Linked DNA regions of Homo sapiens: region 2 is linked to region 1. The links come from fine-mapping of genetic effects on gene expression. A gene starts in region 1. The other region holds a variant in brackets. All regions are shown on one strand. Distances are between the middles of the regions. Region 1 holds the start of SLBP (stem-loop histone mRNA binding protein). Region 2 has its middle 5.7 kb from the start of FGFR3.

Region 1 (9,650 bases):
AAACCCTGCCTCTACTAAAAATACAAAAATTAGGATAGGCATAGTGGCTCACACCTGTAATCCCAGCACTTTGGGAGGCTAAAGCAGGCTGATCACTAAGTCAGGAGTTCGAGACTAGCCTGACAAACATGGTGAAATCTAGTCTCTACTAAAAATACAAAAATTAGCCAGGCGTGGTGGTGCGCACCTGTAATCTCAGCTACTCAGGAGGCTGAGGCAGGAGAATTGCTTGAACCCGGGAGGCAGAGGTTGCAGTGAGCTGAGATCGCGCCACTGCACTCCAGCCTGGGCGACAGAGCAAGACTCTATCTCAAAAACGAAAAAAAAAAAAAAAAAATCAGGCGGGCGTGGTGGCGCATGCCTGTAGTCCCAGCTACTTGGAGGCTGAAGCAGGAGAACTGCTTGAACTTGGAAGGCAGAGGTTACAGTGAGGTGAGATCACACCACTGAACTCCAGCCTGGTTGACAGTTATGCCCCGTCACAAAAAAATACACTAGATACTAACTTTAATTACAACAAATAAGCAACCTATTTTAGCTGTAAACCAAATGCTGTGCTTTGAAAATGCAATTGCAGTAACAAATGAATAATCCTCTTATGTAATTATCATTTCTTCCCTTACAGTCACACAACTCAGATAAACTTAAATTGGATTTCTAAAAGTAAATTTCCAGATTCTAAAAATGGTAGAAAGTTATGAAATCAAATTAGGTAATTAACTGAAAATTAAATTGACTCAATAGAGGTTTGTCCAGGATTGGATACAAGCATCCTCACTAGTGTATCAAGAGGTTCAAGTCTGGGTCTGCCAACATAACAAATTCCTGAACTACAAGAATAATTTAAAGCCTGTGTATGTGAATGACCATATACTACATGCCATATTTTGGTATCTTTAAGTCCATTTCTTAGATTAAGTAGGTTATATTCATAATCTACCCTATCTTGGGACAACAAAGCCTAATTTTACACACTAAGCTAACAACCTTCCAAAGAGTACTTCTAGATCTTATCCATCAACGAGCTGGCTCTATTTGTCAGGTGCCTCCAGGCATTATCCACAATGTGCAAATACCAAGTGCAAAGGCCCTAGGACAGAAGCATTCCTATAGTTTGAGGAATGAGGACACCAAAAACTTCCATAACTTCTAAAGCACTGTAAGGATTTAATATTTTTATCTTCAGCTAAATGAGACCACTGGAGAGTTCAGAGCTTGATCTCAATAAGGTTTGTTTACCTTCCCTTCATATCTGGACCTAGGGCCTCTTCTGTACCCACCCGTAGACCCAAGTCTTTTGTCTTTTTTTTTTTTTTGAGACAGTTTCACTCTTATTGCCCAGGCTGGAAGGCAATGGCGTGATCTCGGCTCACCGCAACCTCCACCTCCTGGGTTCAAGGGATTCTCCTGCCTCAACCTCCCGAGTAGCTGGGATTACAGGCATGCGCCACCATGCCCGACTAATTTTGTATTTTTAGTAGAGATGGGGTGTTGGGAAAAAGGCTTATCGAGTGCCTGTATAAGCTGGCCATAAAAATATGGCACAGTAAGTTGTGAAAAGCCACAAGAGGCCTCTGAGGAGGAAAGCCTCCTAATTGCCATCATGTTCCCATGCTCAGAGCGAGACCTGCTCTCTTATCTGTAAACAGTGTTCAAGAAGAAAGACATTCCTTTAAAGCACTGGAATGTGGACAGATTTGCAGGCTCCTAGTTAAGCCCGCTCCCACTAGCTACTCTCCAATAAGTTAGATATGCTGTTTGAGCACAAAGGAGATTCATTGAAACCGCTATAATTACGCCTATGACGCCTGCCTCCCTTTCACTGTTTCACCCTGAACATCTACTTCTTTTTTTTTTTTTTTTGAGACGGAGTCTCGCTCTATTGCCCCAGCTGGAGTGTAGTGGGGCGATCTCGGCTCATCGCAAGCTCCGCCTCCCGGGTTCACACCATTCTCCTGCCTCAGCCTCCTGAGTAGCTGGGACTACAGGCGCCCGCTACCACGCCCGGCTAATTTTTTGTATTTTTAGTAGAGACGGGTTTTCACCGTGTTAGCCAGGATGGTCTCCATCTCCTGACCTCGTGATCCACCCGCCTTTTGCCAAGGCGCTGGGATTACAGGCATGAGCCACCGCGCCCGGCCTACTTCTTAAAGTGATTGTACTCAATAAATAGTGTGGAGACCGCAACTCCGGGCCTTTTGCAGCCTCCATTTTCCAACTGGTCCCCTGGCTCCCACCTTTATGAGCTCTTAACCTGTCTCTTCTCATTCCGGGTAAGTGTCGAGGCTGGTCCCCAACAATGGGGTTTCTCCATGTTAGTCAGGCTGGTGTCGAACTCCTGACCTCAGGTGATGGGCCCGCCTTGGCCTCCCAAAGTGCTGGGATTACAGGCAGGAGCCACTGCGCCCAGCCCCCTAGACCCAAGTCTCTAAATATCATCTCTATGTCCTGGTAACTCACTGTGCCTGAAGATGCCTCCCATGTAGACTCCTACACTCCGTTACCTTTCTTGACATCTCCTTTGCTTCTCTAAGCAGCTTCTCAAGCCTCACAACTTCCCATGCCTAGCTGCTCCAGCCCATCTTCTCTATCTTAGCAAATGGCCCCAATCAACAGCGTTCAGACCTAAAGGCTTGAGTCATTCTTGATGCCTCTTTCCTGTGTAAACCAAAAAGTGTCTGAGACAGGTCTCAATTGCTTTAGGAATTTAGCTAATGTTAAGGACATACCTAGAAGAACACGAAATTACAGAAAGAGTCTGTGGTCTGTGCCTTTCTCCAGAGATGACTGTCAGGGCTTCAATATTTAAAAGAGAAAAGTAGGTTGAAGGAGAAAGATCTACATGTTCCAAGAGAAAAGGAGCAGGTAGGGGAATAGTCAATTATGTATTCCTAGTGTGCTCAGTAAGTCGCCACTTAAAGTGAACAGAGTTCACCCGTGGAGATATTTAATCTTGTATCTGTAGGTATCTGCTTAGAAAAAAAAAAAGAAACACAAAGGTGGCCGGGCGCGGTGGCTCACACCTGTAATCCCAGCACTTTGGGTGGCCAAGGTGGGTGGATCACTTGAGGTCAGGAGTTCGACACCAGTCTGGTCAACATGGTGAAACCCTGTCTCTACTACAAATACAAAAAGTTAGCCGGGCGCGGTGGCATGCGCCTGTAATCCTAGCTGCTGGGGAGGCTGAGGCAGGAGAATCACTTGAACCCGGGAGGGGGAGGCTGCAGTGAGCCAAGATCGCGTCACCGCACTCCAGCCTGTGAGACAGAGTGAGACCCTGTCTTTAAAAAAAAAAAAAAAAAAAAAAAAGTAACGCAAAGGTAGTTTCTTGCATGATTCCGCGCTCAGCATAATTTTTTCCTTTTGGCACAGTGAAGTTGGGTCCGATTTTTTTTTTTCCTTTCACGCCTCCCATCCCCAACCCATCAGCAAGTCTCACAGGTCCTGCCTTCAGAAGCCTATCCCGAACCACGCATTTCCCTCCACCTTCACTGCTCCATCTCGGCCAAGTCACCACGCCTTTCAGGGAACTCAGGAGCAACAAGCCCCCAGTGCGGGACGAGCCACCCCAAAGCCCCTCGAGAAGTTTTCTCTAACCACAGCCCCGAAAAGCCCCGCCACTACGACCACTGGCACCCCTGCTTATTTCCTCCAGACCCTCCTCGGCCGTCCCACCCCATCAAGCCCTCCTTTCGCTCGCATCTCCACCCTCCCTGCACACTGCCTAACCCAGAAAATGGCCAAGCAGGTAAGCCCTGTCAACTCACTTCTCCTCGGGACTCGGGTGTCCCTGACTTCCACGTGTTCACGAGAAGCTCGTCAGAGACCCTGACCTCTCCCGGGAGCACAACACAGACTCGAACTGGCTAACTCGGGCTGACGCCGGTTCAGCTGACTCCCATCCTGGCAAGAGGCTTCCGGAGTGTTCCAGCGCCTCCCAGGCCTGCTGCGGCCGCCCCAGTCCACGGGCCGCGCGGAGACCAAGATAAAAGGACGCAGGGTGCCGACCTGACCGATCCCGGCACCGCGAGAGCGCGACGAGGTCCCTGGAGCCCGCGGCCTCGTCAAGGGCCCCACCGCGCCCCGACCCCCGGGTCCCGCGCCCACCTCTCGGGTCTGCGCTCGGCGCCGCGGTGCTCTGCCTCCTCGGCGTCTTCGGGCCTCCAGCGCCTGCCGTCGGCTCTGCGCTTCCGTCCCAGGCTCCATCGCGCGGGGGACGGCGGGCTGCGGGGAGGGACGCGGTCGGCTGGGCACGGGAGGTTCGGGACCGCCTTACAACCTCCGCCCTCCCACACCCCGGCCCCGCACAACCCCCGCCCCACGGGGCACGCGCTCCCTCGCCCGCCGCGCAGCCCGGCCTCACCTGGCGTCACCGTCGCAGCGGCTCTGATGCCTCGGCGGGCTTCGCGGGCGGCAGGCCATGGCAGCACGGGCCGGGCGCGCAGCGCAGGGCCGAGGCTGAGGCGGCGGCGGCGCGGGCAGAGAGCGCAGAGTAGAGCAGGGCAGGGCCTGAGGCAGAAACCCGCGTCCCCGCGCCGGCGCTCACGAGCTCTGCGCGCCCCGCCCCCAACCGCCTTTATGTGGGCGCCGGGCCCCGCCCCTCGGCCTCCCGCGCGCGCCGGGTCGGGCGAGACCATCGGGCCACGCCGCAGGGGTCCACTCAGCTGTGCGCGCCTCGCGAGCCGACTGGGGCTAGGGCGAGGCCTCGGGACCGCGGGCAGCCGCGAAGCCCGACTGCCCGGCCCTCGGCTCGGGAGCCAGATGGACGCCGTGGGCTGAGGAGAGGCCTGAGGAAAAGGTTGCCCCCACCCGCGGGATTGAGGCGGCCGGGCCGCCGCGGGCCTCTGCGACGCTGATAGGTCGCGCCTTGGCGGGCGGGGGCAGCTTTGGCGGGAGATTCGGCCGCGCGCGACGCGGCGCAGGTCGTGGGGGAAGGGTAAGCGGCACGTTTCTCGGCCTGGGTCGTGGCGCATCTCCCATTGGTTCCGGCCTGGGTGGAGCGCGGCTCTGCTTGGTTCCTGCCCAGGTGGGGGCGTGTCTCCTCCCTGGCGGGAACCCGGAACCCGGAACCCGGAAGGCGCGGCCTGTGGCGGGTACTGACTGCTTCCCACGGTCCCGTGGCCGCTGCAGGCCCCGTACGCGCCGTCTATTGTTTTGAGCCGCTTAAAGTTTTGGAGTAACCTTTTAGGTCGCAACAGTTGACAACTACACTGAGTCTTTCCGGTCCCACTGCCCTGGCCGTTGACCGCACACCGGCCACCGACTGAGCCGCTAGTTTCGGTTGCCGCTGCCTCCCTGCCCGTCCATGACGTCCTCCACTGTGTCGCCGGTGCATGACGCTCCCACCCTCTGCCTGGAGTTGACTGGGTTTGTATCCTGAAGAATCCCTGGCTCAGCAGGTAGGTTCCACCTGGAGGCGAGGTCCTGTAGATCCGCACCATCCCGTCCCGCTTCCCCGCCGTCACAGTTGCAGCTGACGGCCCCGCGGATCCAGCCAACTAGAACCCCAACGGGTGCACTACACCTGAGAACAGGTTCCCACAGCTTCCTGTTGGGGACAACGTGAGGGATGCAGGGGAGAGTGGAACCAGCCAAAAGAGTGGGCAGTGGGGTCAGGTCCAGGAGGCTGAGCCCCAGGGATGCTTGGGATCCCTCTAAGGCCTTACACCTCTGGGAGGGCCGGACTTTTGCACCTGCTGCCCTCAGGACTGTGCCTTGGTGCGTCCACCGCCCCCTTTTGAACTCAAAAAAGTCATCCTCAGACTAGGACGGACACATCCTGTCCCCTTCCTCCCCAGGCCCTGGGCATCCCATAACCCTCAACACTGTAAACTAAAAATAAAATCCTGGCAGGGCGCGGTGGCTCATGCCTGTAATTCCAACACTTTGGGAGGCCGAGGCGGGAGGATCATCTGAGGTTGGGAGTTCGAGACTAGCCTGACCAACATGGAGAAACCCTGTCTCTACTAAAAATACAAAATTAGCCTGGCATGGTGACGCATGCTTGTAATCCCAGCTACTCGGGTGGCTGAGGCAGGAGAATTGTTTGAACCCGGGAGGCAGTGGGCTAAGATTGCACCACTGTACTCCAACCTGGGCAACAAGAGCAGAACTCTGTCTCAAAAAAAATTAAAATCCTAAGCCCCCAACAACTGAATGGACCCCCTTGCGGTCAAGGGGACACCAGTGGCAATAAGATACCAAATTATGAATAGGACCTAAGGTCATGCCAGGCAAGGGTTAAGTCACACACCCTACATTTAAACTATATTCCTACTGCCACACTGCTTTTCTTTTCCTCTTAGTAGCTCAATAAGCACTGGCCTTGAGCTAAGCAATATTGGAACAGTGCAGTGGCCGAGATGATGGCTCATGCCTGTGATCCCAACACTTTGGGAGGCTGAAGCCTCCAAAAGGATTGCTTCAGGTCCAGAGTTTAAGACCAGCCTGGGTAACAGCGAGACCCTATCTTTACAAAAAACTTAAACAAAAAGGCTAGGCACTGTGGCTCACACCTGTAATCCCAGCATTTTGGGAGGCTGAGGTGGGAGGATCGCTTGAGCTCAGGAATTCGAGACCAGCCTGGGCAACATAGCAAGACTTCATCTTTACTAAAAATCAAAAAAATTAGCCGGCCATGGTGGTGTGTGCCTGTGATCCCAGCTACTCGGAAGCTGAAGTGGGAGGATTCCTTGAACCTGGGAGGTCAAGGCTACAGTGAGCCCAGATGGCGCCACTGCACTCCAGCCTGGGCGACAGAGTAAGACCCTGTCTCAAAACAATAAAAACCAATTTGCAGTTCCACCGGATGCTGACTGATCCCCCAGCCCCTATTCCACCAGCCATAACTACAGTTTCATTGGACAAGAGACTGATTTCAGTAACTTGGTCCAGATAAGAGACCACAGTGATGGACCACTTCTGGCCTGTGTAGAACCTCATTATAATACATTTTAAATGTTAAGTCTCCACCCCAAAGTGAATGTGGATTGTATGTTTGTTCAGGATGCATGCGTCAGGACTGCCTTCATGAATATTCATAGCTCCTCCTGTCACCTGCTGAATATGCATGTTTAGCCAACCCATTCAGCATAAACCTCCTGCCCCAACCCCTCCTCCTCCTCCTCTGAAGTGCCCATCTCTGGTCTTGGCCAGAGGCTGTGCTTTCCAGTCTGAGGGATGGCCATCTTGCAGGCTGTTAACTATTTTTATTTTGAGACAGTCTCACTCTGTCGCCCAGGCTGGAGTGTAGTGACGCGATCTCGGCTCACTGCAATCTCTGCTATCCAGGTTCAAGCGATTCTCGTCAGGCTGTAACTTTTTAGAAGAAATAAACTCTTCTCTAAGTTAACAGTACAGAGCCAAAGAGTCCCAAGTACCTGTGAGTCACAGGGCCTGGCACAGTCAGGGCCCATAACAGCCCCTCAGTAGATGCTCACTGGATCTCTGTTGTTGGTTAAAGCAGCGCCTGGCTGTGTATGCAAAAGAATGCCAGTGAAAGTACCAGGCTGGAAAGAATCTGAAGACACTCGTAGCGCAGGAAACTAGAGCCCACTGTCATATCTTTCAATAGGATTACGTGTACTGTTTCCCCAAGAACCATCCTGTGGGTCAAGAAGCAGAATGGGGAAAAGGCAGCAAGCACTCACTGTCCGGTTGCTGGGGTGCTCACCTGAGGGCCCAGTGCTGTGGGGAACCCCAGGCTGCTGTCTTGGCTGCCCTAGGTGCTCGGCTGGCAATTCCTGGGCCACCCTGACCCACAGTGAGGTCAGTAGAGACAGCCTGGTGTCCTCACAGGACGCAGCTGCAAACATAAGTGAACCGGAAAGGCTGCTCACTCCTTGGCTACCCATGTGTCCCCACATCAGTTCCTGCATCTGGAAGCAGCCGCAGTGGCGACCACACAGTGACTTCCCCCAGGACGTGTCTCTGCCCCTCCCACCCTGCTCCTGCAGAGGGCCCTGGGTCAGGGGTTCTCAAGACCCCAGAGTCCCTAACCAGAAATCAGAGGGGAAGGTTCCTACTGTACCCGCCTCCCAACCAATGGGTTTTTCCTCCTTATTCTGAACAAAGCACGCCACGCACGCAATTCCACCTCTAAGGTGGCTTCTCCAATACCCACAGGCCATTCTCCAACTATGACAAAAGTTTGGTTTTAATATCGGGCAACACAAAACACAGTACATCACTTCAGACTAAATTTTATTAAATATGGTGTCATTTGGCTACAATCGGTTTGTCTTTATAAAACTAAGTAACTTATTTTGTAGTAAAAACAACCCCAACCCACTGCCCCTCTTTGGCAGCCCTTGAAACTCAGTTCAAAGCTAGGCCTGGCTCCCGGCCATGGCCCCTGCTGCCTTCACCTGCTGAGCGCTCTAGGAAGCCTCCCAAATCCCAAGTGTCAGGCCCCCGGAGTCCATCACCTCTGCCTCAAACAGCCAAGCCCAGGGGCTTTGGGGCCGCAGGTATGAAGGCCCCTCCAGTAGCCACACCTGTGTCAGGGCTGTGCCCTGGGGCCTGGCCAACATCCCCCCTCCCCTTGAACCATCAGGAACTGGGCAAGACGCCCACCAGAGGCTTGACCACAGGGGGCGTGCATCCCCTTCTGAGCCTGGGAGACCCTAGGGGAGTGGGTAGCCTGGGCTGGACCCCTGGTGGGCTTGTGTTCTGGATGTCGCTATGGCACTTTGGTCCTCAACTCAAACCCCCACCCCTACCCAGGAGTCTGAGACCTCGGCCTTCCCTGGACTTGTTGGGCAGAAAAAGGCACCAAGGACAGGATGAGAAACCCGGAGGGGCAGCCCCACAAATGAGGGCGCTCTGACCTGTCCTCCCATTGCCACCCCACCCAGGAACAGCCCCTCAACTGGTCACAGCCACCAGGAAGCCCCAGGACTGCTCCCACACCACAGCAGTGCCCTCTTCTCCATCCCACCCTCAGGACCTACCCAGGGTCCTCCAGGCAGCCAGGGGCCAGCTCCAGGACAGGGCAGGAGAATGCGGTCCAGGTCTGGCACGTAACTGAGGGTGGGTATGCTCCAGAGAAGTAAGGCAAATGGCCCAGATGACGACCACCTGGGGTAGACCCAGGGTCTCCAGGGAATGGCTCGGGGGCAGACGCTGTGTCTGTGTGTGCAGGATCTGCCCCCACCAGCAGGAAAGGGGCAGGAGGGAGGCAAAGAGGAGGTGCCCAGGACTTGTACCCTGGCTGCCAAGCAGGGTGGGGTGTTTTCATGAGGATTGCTTTTAACCAAAAGTCCTCAGCCTTCTGCAGACCCAGGGCAGAGGCGAGTTGCTCTACATCATGTGCTTTAAGTAGAGCCCTTTGCCAGCCAGGAGGCCCAGCCACCCCCTTCCCTGCCCTGTGGCTTTGGGGGGAGACACAGAGTCACCTCAAGGCCCCAGCCCACTCAGCGCACGGTGCACACATCCAGGATGCAGAAGCGTGCGCGGCAGGTGGGGCAGGGCACGCGGCTGGCCAGCCAGGTGTCAGGGCGCAGGGGGTCCTGGCGGCTGGCGAACCACTTGCCCATGCAGGTGAGGCACCACATGGGGCGGCAGTAACACTGCTGGCACTCGCCTGTGGCTGCCTCCTGGCAGGTCTTCACCAGCTTCACGCTGGCACGTGTCTGCATGCAGCCTATGCA
Region 2 (9,650 bases), 75 kb after region 1:
CTTTATTGCCCCCACTCTATGGATGACTGCATGGGTGAGCCCACGGCCATGCAGGGAGCCCGGTCCTCCGGGCTGGGACCGGCCTTGAGATGGGATGCATGGCCAGGAGGCGGGCGATGGCCGAGGTGAGGGGCTCAGGGAGGGGGCTGGTCATGGCATTCAGAGCCAGGTTATGATGGGGCCTGGCCATTGACGACAGACGGGGTGATGACAGCGGGGCCCCAGGATGGAGCCTGCAGTCCACGACATTCAGAGCAGAGCATGGGGCATGCAGGAAAGGGGGCCAGAGGACCTGCTGGGTCTTTCCGGGTGTATGGTGCCAGCAGGTGTCCAGCGCCTCCAGCCCCTTGTCTGAGAGCAATGGAGACAGGTGGGGGGGGGGGGTGCAGGGCGTCTGGGTAGAACCTGAACAGAGAGGCCCTGGGGAACAGGCTGGCTGTCGAGTCTCCACCTGCCCAAGCCAATTTCTGGCACTACCAGTTCTGTGAGCTCCACAGTAGCAAGCAGTGGGGTCCTATAAGCTCTCTGGGCGGAGTGCCATGTCTGCACCCCTCACGGGCCTGCATGCACAAGCCGTGCAACTTGAGTCCAGGGCATCCTTAGGAGAGGGTGTGTGGGGCCGCCCTGGGGGTCCTGCCATGCTGTGGTGGGGTCACAATGTCAACGTTGCAGCGGGGGGAGGTCCAGGCACAGGACCATTTTGTCTCGGGGGAGCTAAGGGTCTTCCAGCAGTAAGGGGTGGGTGGGCAGGGGCAGGGATGGGGGCGGGATGGGGGCGGGATGGGGGTGGGATGGGGGTGGGATGGGGGGTCTCTTTGAGACTCACCAGCCCCTGGTTTTGGAGATTTGCCCGTCCCCCTGCTCTTCAGTGGGGTGGATCTGGGAGGACCGCAGAGCCAGCAGCAGCTGGTGGACCGACCCTGCCCAGCAGGTGCACAGATTGCCCCAAGGCAGGGCTGGAAGCCCAGGCAAGCCCAGGCCTCTGTGGGGCCAGGGAGGAAGTGGGGAATGAAGAAACTCTGTGGAGGGAGGTGCCTGCCCTTGGACCCTTGGCTTGGTCTGAGCTTCCTGGCAGCCAGGGCAAAGAGAGAAAGAAGGTGCCCCATGCTCAGGAGAGAGTGGTGCAGCAGGGTTCGGTGGGCAGACGGCTCAGCCTCTACCCTTGGCACCCAGGATGGGGGTCACCTGCAGCCCGTCCCTCTCTTCAGTCCCTGCCCTCCAGGAACCAGGTTAGAGGCTGGGCAGGGGTATGGGGCCCAGGGCTTCAGTCCTGAGGTGCCCGTGACAGTGTCCTGCAGTTCCTGCACCGCCAGGAGGATGAGCCTCGAGGGCTAATGAGCCCCACACGGCCGGGCCAGCCTCAAGGCCAAGGCACAGCTCTTGCGGAACCCTGGCAGCTTCTCTGAGGCAGCCATGCGGAAGATGGGGGTGTGTCCTGGTGCAGCAAGCTGGGGGTTGCTTGGGAGGCAGGACGAGCTTGACCCAAGGGAGGGTGCTTGATGGGCAGTCCTGAGGTGCTCAGCCAGGAAGCGACTATGATTGATTTGCTGTGCACCCAGGGCAGGGGCTGTCCTCCCGAAGCTGAGCTTCTTCACCTGTCTTCTGACTCACTTATCTCCCCGAGCCCCGGAGATACAAGGATCACAGGCAGGGGCCTTCTCCTGAGCTGGCCAGAGCTGGGCAGGACACTTGGGGCACGCAGCTTTTGTGGGCTAGCCTGGAAACTCGGCTATCCTGGACACCACACTGGCAACAGGTTGTCTGGAGCCAGGTCGGGGCATGTGGGGCCTGAGCCAAGGCTGTCAGCTGAAGCCTCTGACATTACTTGTGTCCCTAGGACAATCACACGTGAGAGCACATGCACACGTGACCATGTGAGCACACAGGCACGGGTTCGGGCCCCAGGCTGTGCTGCCACCTGAAGCCCCTGCCCTGGCTGTGGATGCCCATTTGGCTGGGCACAGCAAGGCGGCGGCCTTGGCACAGGGAGCCTGCCCAGCCTTGCTCTGACCCAGTTTTCCATGCCCAGGCAGGCGGGTGGCACTGGTGTAGTGGCTCCCAGAGCTTCTCTTTGGCAACACCAATCCCCTGGGCCCAAAGCAGCTCCACAGGGGCACCTGGATGGCTCCATGTGCCCTGGGCATGTCCTCTGAGAGGGTGGGTGCCCCCCTGGGATGTGGCCACCCAGCCCCAGCGGTTTCACACCCTAGAACCAGTGCCTTCTGCCTGTGGTCCCTAGGCACACAGCTGCCGCTGCCTGAATGCGCTCTGCCTGCCCTGCCTTCTGCCTCCAGATGAACGGACCTGTCATCCAGGGAGCGATCCCTGTGGCCCTCCACTCTAGACCTGCAGGCTGCTTCCTTGCCCACTCCTGGGGGTCAGTCATGGCCTGGCTGTAGACCAGATCCTTGAGGGGTGAATCTGGGGATAAGCCTCAGAGCCACAGGGCCTGGGCAGGCCTCAGAAGGCATCCCAGAGAAGGGAGGGTGGAAGGTCCCCATGGGCAGGGAGGCGCAGGGAGCAAAGGCTGCTGGGAGCAGGGAGGGGAGCTGGGCGGGCGGAAGGGCGGCCGTGGGAAGCCAGCCCTGGCCTGGCTGGCCTGATAAGCTGCCCCTTTGATCCACACTGAGGCAACACAGACCCCCATCCTGAGATAACCCCGGGCCTGGGACCCAAGGCTCTGGTCAACCCGCCCTCCCGAGTGTGCGCTGCCCTGCCCCTCCGGCCCTGACAGTGACCGGTCCTTGCTCAGCTGCAAGCTGGGTGGGTGCAGTCTGAGCCCAGGCCTGGCGGGCACTCCATGTGCCCCCACCCCAGGACCTGCTGGTCCTCACCCTGCCTTCAAAGCCTCCCCAGCCCCAGCCTCTGTGTCCAGCTCTCTGTCCCCTTTGGTTGGGAAGGGGCACCTCCCCCGCCCCCCAGTTCCCATCCCCTTCACTGTGCCCCTGGGAGGCCCCTGAGGCCCTCACTCCCCAGCTGGGGCTCAGCAGGTTTGAGGCCCTTTGGGCAGCCCTGTCTGACCAGGGCTATAGTGTGGCACAGGTGTGGGCACAGGTGTGGCATAGGCGTGGGCACCAGCTATGTGTGGCTTGGGTGCACACTGCGTAGGCACCTTCTCCCGGGCGCCTGCCTCTGCCTGGCGCCGGTCAGCACCCCCATGCCCTCGGTCCCTCCCCTGCCCAGGTCAGTGGACAATGAAGCTGTCAGCAGACTGGGGCCGGGGGAGGCAGGCAGGCGTGGCGGGGAAGGGAGGCCTCAGGAGGCGAAGATGTCTCTATTAGGGGCTGCAGACCTTGCTTCCACTGTCCTGCCCAGCCCTGGGGACTCCGAGAGCTGGAGGCAGAGGTGGCCCCAAGCTTGGGGCAGAAAGGGTCGTCTTGTCCATCAGGGCCCCAGTCAGCCTTGGGACTGGGTCCCTGGAAAGGCAGGCCCATAGATGGAGGAGCCCAGAGCGTGGGGCTGGCCACAGGTGGTCAGGGAGGGTGGAAGCGTGGCTGGGAGCTGCACAGGGATGAGGTGTCGACGGCGCTGACATCCCAGCCCTGCCAGCCTCCTAAGGCACCCACGGCCCACATCTCCCTGCTGAGCGGAAGCACTGGGGGACGCTCTACCCAGTGCCTCAGCAGACCCTCAGCCAACGGCTGTTAGAATATACCTCGTGTGAGGTGCGTCACGATACCCAGCTGTAAAATGGGGCAACCCTGTGGCTTCAACAGACTCCCCTTCCCAGTGCCTGCGGCTGAGCTGGAGTGGCAGGAGGGCTTCTGTGGGAGCAGGTGGCAGGAAGCATAAGGGCTGGGGGACCTGCAGAAGCTCCGTACCCCCGGGAGGCTGGGGCCAGAGCAGGCTTCTTGCAGGGGCGCTGGTTTCGGCCCTCACCCTGACTGCCCTGCCGGATCCGGGCAGACGAGGCCCCACGCACACCGCAGCAAGGGGCCCAAGACGCCAGCCAGGCCCTCACCTTGGCAAGAGGTGGCTTCTGTTTCTGACAGGTCAACAGCTGGGCTAGGGGAGGTCTCCAGGGACCAGCCACGCCCCACTTCCTGAGGGCTGGAGAGGGCTGGGGAGGGTGGCCCAGGTCTGCGATCATCAGGGCCTGGCCAGGGCCTTCTTTCCCAGATTCCCCCAGAGCTGGAGTCCCCAGAGCCACGCCCCTTCCCTGGCATGCCCTGGCGCC[C/T]GGGCCATCTCCTCCTGGGCACTTGCGGAGGTTGCCCCTGCTCTCCCCACTGCCCTCTCAGCAGGCGTGAATAGAGTCCCTCATAGCTTGGGAGACTGAGGCCCCCAGCAGGTGCCTCTTACCCAAGACCTTGGAACTGGGCGAGGTCCTCCGGGCCCACCAGGACCCGCCTCAGACATCAGGCTTTGCACTTGCAGCCCGGAGCCTCCCGACCCCACTCCCAGGCCAAGGGCCTCTGGCCGCAGCCTCCGCCATCATCTGCCGGCTTCTGGGGCCGAGCATCAGGGCCCTGTGCCCCTGCTGAGCGTGCCGGGTGGGGGCCGGGCTGAAGGCTGCACCTGGAGGCAGGGCTCCCGAGGAAGCCGCCCAGGGGGTCAGAGCCAAACAGCTGCCTCCTCTAGTCAGCCCCATGCAGCCTTACGGGGGCAGCGCCCTGCAGTGGCTGCGGGTGGGGCCGGGTGGGGCAGGGCTGCCCTCCCTCATGCCGCTGGGCACCTGGCCTGGGGCAGGGGGCTCTGGCCCACTCTCGGGTCTCCCTAAATACTGTGGCGAACACCCCACCCTTCCCAAGCTCAGCTGAAACCTCCCTGGGGCAGGGCTGTCAGATCAGGCCACTGAGCGCCTCCTGCTGCCTGTGGCTCTGTGCCTCAGTTTCCCCACCTGTCAAGTGGGTGTTGGTGATGTGGCTGGCATGAAGTTTCTGTCAGGAGCCACCAGCACTCCGCACCTTGCCATCCACAGGTTCTCAGCCACACAGGGTGTGGGGTTGCCCCAAGCCAACCCATTTGTGGGGGTGGGGCCGTCCCCACACCCCGGCTGGGCTGGACGGGATCTCCAGCCTCTCGTGGGCAGCTGCCTGCTGGGCCCAGTTGGCCACTCTGGACTCTTGGGCCCTGGCCGGAAGCACGACTGACGTTGTCCATGGTTTGGGGACGGGCAGGCAGAGGGTGGCCAGGCGAGGCCCTGAGAAGGGGCTCTGGCCGAGGCTGGCCAGGTGACACCCGGAGTGGCGGGCAGGGCTGAGAGGAAGGGGCATCCTGAAGAGGGCGGAGGCCGCGGAGGGAGGAGGGTGTGACGTGGGGTTGGACCGGCGGCCCCGAGGCCTGGATTCCTAATTCAGCCGGAGCCTGTGGAGTCGGGGCTTGTTTATTCTTGGCAGGAAGGCTGGTGCTGGGGGGGCAGAAGTGGGGAGTGAAGCCTTTTCAAAAAATAATAATAATAAAAACGCTCATTTAGAAGGCTCCCAAGGCGTGCTGAACTCCAAAAGGGTCTTGGAAAAAATGCTGAGAGGGTTTAAGTGTAAATGGACCCAAAACACCATAATTAAATTTCCTTTAAATTTACCAGAGTTTGGGGTCAAAGAAAAAATAAAACTTAGGGAAAATACACTTGAGGTTTCAGGCAAATGCCAAGTGCTTAGGAAAATAGATTCTGAGCTGCTCAGCGGCTACCGGCCTGGCCCCCGCCATCCTGGGAGCTGCCCAGCCTTAACCCCTCCCTGGCCAGCCCTCCACTGCCCGCCCCACCCACCCCTGTGGGGGACCCCACCACCACCTCCTGCTGCTTCCGCACAGTTCGAGCCGCCCTCCTGTGCCAGACTCCAGGCAGGGAGCTGGGCCTCCCCCACTCCCAGGCTGGGGCAGGAGCCCAGGGGGAGCCTGAACATTCACCCCCGCCCCCATCTCTACAGCTCTCTCTTGTGTCTGCAGACAGCTCTGGTTTCCTTTCTTTGCTCATCTGGGAGCAGCCACATTTTCCAAACCAAAGTCAGAACTTGAGGTCTAGTGGTCTGAGTGAACCAAACGGTAAAAAGGCCAGAATGTTTGAACTGGGACTGTCCTGCCATATCCAAGACGACAGGCTCCCAGCAGCTCATGACTCACGGTGTTACCCTTTTTCCTCAGCCTGCCAGGAAGCTCAGAGCTAAAATTAAGGGTCTTGCTAGCTGCGTTGGCTTAGGGATTTTGGAATATTTTTTCTTCTTCTTCACGTTCTTTAAAATTTCATTTCTGTTATAATGAGCAAATCAAGGTTTGTTTTTTTATTTTAATACTTTTCAAATTTTGTGAGAATAAATTTAAAAGGCAAAGTCAGGCATGGTGGCACATGCCTGTATTTGGGAGGCTGAGACGGGAAGATTGTTTGAGCCCAGGAGTTCAAGACCAGCCTGGACAGCATAGTAAGACCCTGTCTCAAAAATAAAATAGAAGGCAGAAACTACCCATAAACTATAATAGCTATAGCCCCACTAACAGCCCAGTCCAGTTCAGCAGGGCTACCCAGGGGCCCTTCTTCCTCCATCCCATGGTGGCCTGCCCTGATCCCTGGCACCCAACCCTGTGCCCTGACAGTGTGGAAGGGCACTAGTGGTTCCTGGGGAAGGTGGTAGGAGATGGGGAGCTCCGAGGGGAGATCGCATGGCTCCCAGGGGGTCCCATGGGCAGAAGGGACTTGATACCCACTCCGGACCTCCGTGTCCCCTGTCCTTCCACTCAGCCTCATGGCAGGGCCGAGGGAAGCTCCCCGCAGCAGCCCCAGCCCTAGGCCAGGTTCTGATCCCAGAGGGGAGCTGGGCAGGAGGCTCTCTCTGGCAGCTCGCCTGCCCTGGGTTCCAGGTCTCCAAGCCTCGGCCTCCCTGCCCACCTCCCTGTCGGGAAAGGCGGCAGCTGCCTGCCCGGAGTGCTGTGGGGAACAGGCGGTGTGGATCTGAGACTGTGCTGGGAATGTCCTCTCTGCCGAAGGCGCCTCTGCCATTTTCCGAGTACCTGCAAGGGAGACGCAGGAGACGCGGGTGTGAGCGGGGCCATGGGCAACCTGCGGAGGCCCTGCACCCAGGATGGGCCTCCCTCCCAGGCACCCTCTGCCACTCACCCACGCAGGCCCCAGCAAGCCAGGCTGCCCAGCTCTGAGTCACCGCCAGGGCTGGGCTGGGCCGGGCCGTCAGCCGCACGCGCCGCTTGTCTCGGCCCCTGCCTCCCATACTCACCTTCAGGGGGGACCCCTGGGTATGGGCCTCAGGAGGTGGGTGGGGGTGCAGGGGGAGTGGGTAGGGAGGTGTAAACCGGAGTCCAGCAGATGGGAAGTTCCTGTCCGGCCGGCACCTGCTTGGAGCCTCCTGCACATGCGGACCCTCAACAGGCTCCCCGAGTCCTCGCCTGCCCTCCCTGCCTCAAAGGCCCCAGAAGGGCCTACTTCATCAGGTGCCACGAGGATGAAGCCAGGTAATATTGCAAAGGGTCTGTGGAAACGCTTGAGCAAGGGCACTGTGATGAAATTGTGGCTACTGACAGCTAATGTGCAGAGTCACCGAAATTCAGGAGTCAAGCAGCCGGCCTGGCCTCACCTCAGTGTCGGGGGAATGCCATCTGCACCTGTGGGCTTGGAAGTGATCCATTTGAACAATACAATTATTCAGACAATACTAAACCGAGCTTTCAGGCAAGACCTCCCGTGGCCCTGACAGTCCTGGGGCAGAGTGGGCAGCAACTCCTTGCTGGTGGCCGTGGCGGCACTAGGACCCTTTTGAAACCAATTTGGCAAAATTAGCGGCACCACGGAAATGCTCCTGCCCTTTGACCTAACTGCTCCCAGACAGTGCCACTGGAGAAGCCATTCAGAATGTGGAGGGCGCCAGAGGAGGCAGCTGCCACGCAGTGCGTAGTGGGCAGAACGGCGGCCTCCAAAAGACATAGTCATGTCCTCACCCCTTGCAGCCTGTGAACGTGACCGTATTTGGAAAAGGATCTTTGCAAATGTAATTAAGGTGAGAATCTTGAGATGGGGGATCCTCTTGGATTATCCAAGTGGGCCCTATATCCAACGACAAGTGTCTGTATAAGAGATGGAAGAGAAGATGGCAGAGTGGGAAGCAGATGCTGGAGCAATGAGGCTGCGAGCCAAGGGACTTGGAGCCCTGGGACACTTGGAGCCCCCAGGAGCTGGAAAAGGCAGGAAAGATCTTCCCTGGAGCCTTCAGAGGCAGTGCAGCCCTGCCTACACCTTGATTCCAGACATCTGCTCTTCCAGACTATGAGAAAGTAAATTTAAGTCAATTAGTGTGCAGTAATTTGTGAGGGCAACCTAGAAATACAAGATGCTACTGAACTAAGGAATCCCCGGCTGCTACTGGAGGGAGAGGTGGTGGGCCTGGGCCAGGGCTGCGGGGACAAAGGGAGGGAGTGGGTTGTGAAAGTGCCTGGTCCCCAGTCCCTCCTCCTGCCAGCACTGCCCACTGGTCAAACCCACCCAGAAGCTGGAGAGCAAGGGACCCTCAGAGATAGGGTCTGTAGGATCAGGCTTTCAAGGACAAATGGGAGAGGGGCTGGGGAAGGGACACATGGGGACCAGACCCCTACTGGGCATTTCTGCCAAGGAGAGGATCCTGGTGAGGAAGAAAGCAGAAAGCTATGTGTTCACAGATGCACGGATGCTCCCCTCCCAGAGACCCGTGGCCGTGGGTGCAGAGGGAGTCAGTCCTTCTTGGAGGTACTGGGAAAGGAGCCTACAGCTCCACTGAGCCCTTCTGCCTACAGGAGGGGCCCCACTCAGCAGCTGTTCCCTGAGGGAGACCTGTCCACGCGTGAGCTCCTTCCCACAGTCCCATCCAGTCCCCCAGGGGAAGGGGCAAGACGGTCAGGTCAGGACCCACACGCATGCTGGTGCTTTCAGAACCTGATGACTTAGTTGGTTAAGAGAGCTCACACCTGCAATCCCAGCACTTTGGGAGGCTGAGGCAGGTGGATCAGTTGAGGTCAGGAGTTCAAGACCAGCCTGGCCAACATGGTGAAGCCCCGTCTCTACTAACAATACAAAAATTAGCCGAGTGTGGTGGTGCACACCTGTAATCCTAGCTACTTGGGAGGCTGAGACAGGAGAATCACTTCAATCAGGGAGGCAGAGATTGCTTGAGCTGAGACTGTGCCACTGCACTCCAGCCTGGGTGACAGAGCGAGACTCCCTCTCAAAAAAAAAAAAAAAAAAAAAAAAGAGCAGGGCCAATGTGCTGCTGTGCCTTGGGGAACGGTGTCCTGGGAGCGGACCTGGCTGGCAGTGACCTGGGGCTGTGCACTGGAGGGGGCTGGACAGTGCACTTGGAGGTGGGTGAGCCTGGGCCCCAAGACGGTCTGGGGACATGGGCTTGGCCAGAGCAGGAAATGAGGGTGGCCAAGGACAGGTGCTGAGCCACCGAGTCGGCACAGAGGGGTGGGCATGAGGGCTTCCTGGGAGCAGGGCCCTTCCAAGTCCCTGAGGTCAGCCCAGGGACACCCTGGCCTCTGGGAGATTCATGGTGGGGCTGTGCATGGGCTGGGTGGGGTCAGCAGGCAGCCAGTCACTGAGGGGCTTTCAGCGCCCATTTTCCTGATGAGCACCTCCAGTCCTGGAAGCCACAAGCCAGGCACGCAGCCCACCCGGCCGGCCCTCCCGGCCAGCTCACTGGCTCCCATGGGCCCCGGACCTCCTTGGGCTTTGCCTG

Evidence for each region.
Region 2: its variant is fine-mapped to the expression of SLBP in whole blood (TOPMed, PIP above 0.99).

Annotation. Positions count from the first base shown.
Region 1 is chr4:1,707,767-1,717,416 of GRCh38, forward strand. It overlaps SLBP (stem-loop histone mRNA binding protein), which reads right to left and starts at 4,553. Exons shown (of 8, transcript NM_006527.4): 1 at 4,364-4,553; 2 at 4,108-4,224. The coding sequence starts at 4,422. It overlaps TMEM129 (transmembrane protein 129, E3 ubiquitin ligase), which reads right to left. Exons shown (of 4, transcript NM_001127266.2): 4 at 8,186-9,650. The coding sequence ends at 9,414. RefSeq lists silencers at 3,930-4,049, 4,060-4,969 and enhancers at 5,100-5,389, 7,369-7,478, 7,599-7,668, 7,979-8,078.
Region 2 is chr4:1,782,730-1,792,379 of GRCh38, forward strand. No RefSeq gene overlaps it. Among named protein-coding and RNA genes, the nearest start is that of FGFR3, 5.7 kb to the right of the region's middle. RefSeq lists a cis regulatory region at 2,159-3,533. The variant C/T (reference allele first, on the strand shown) is at 4,178.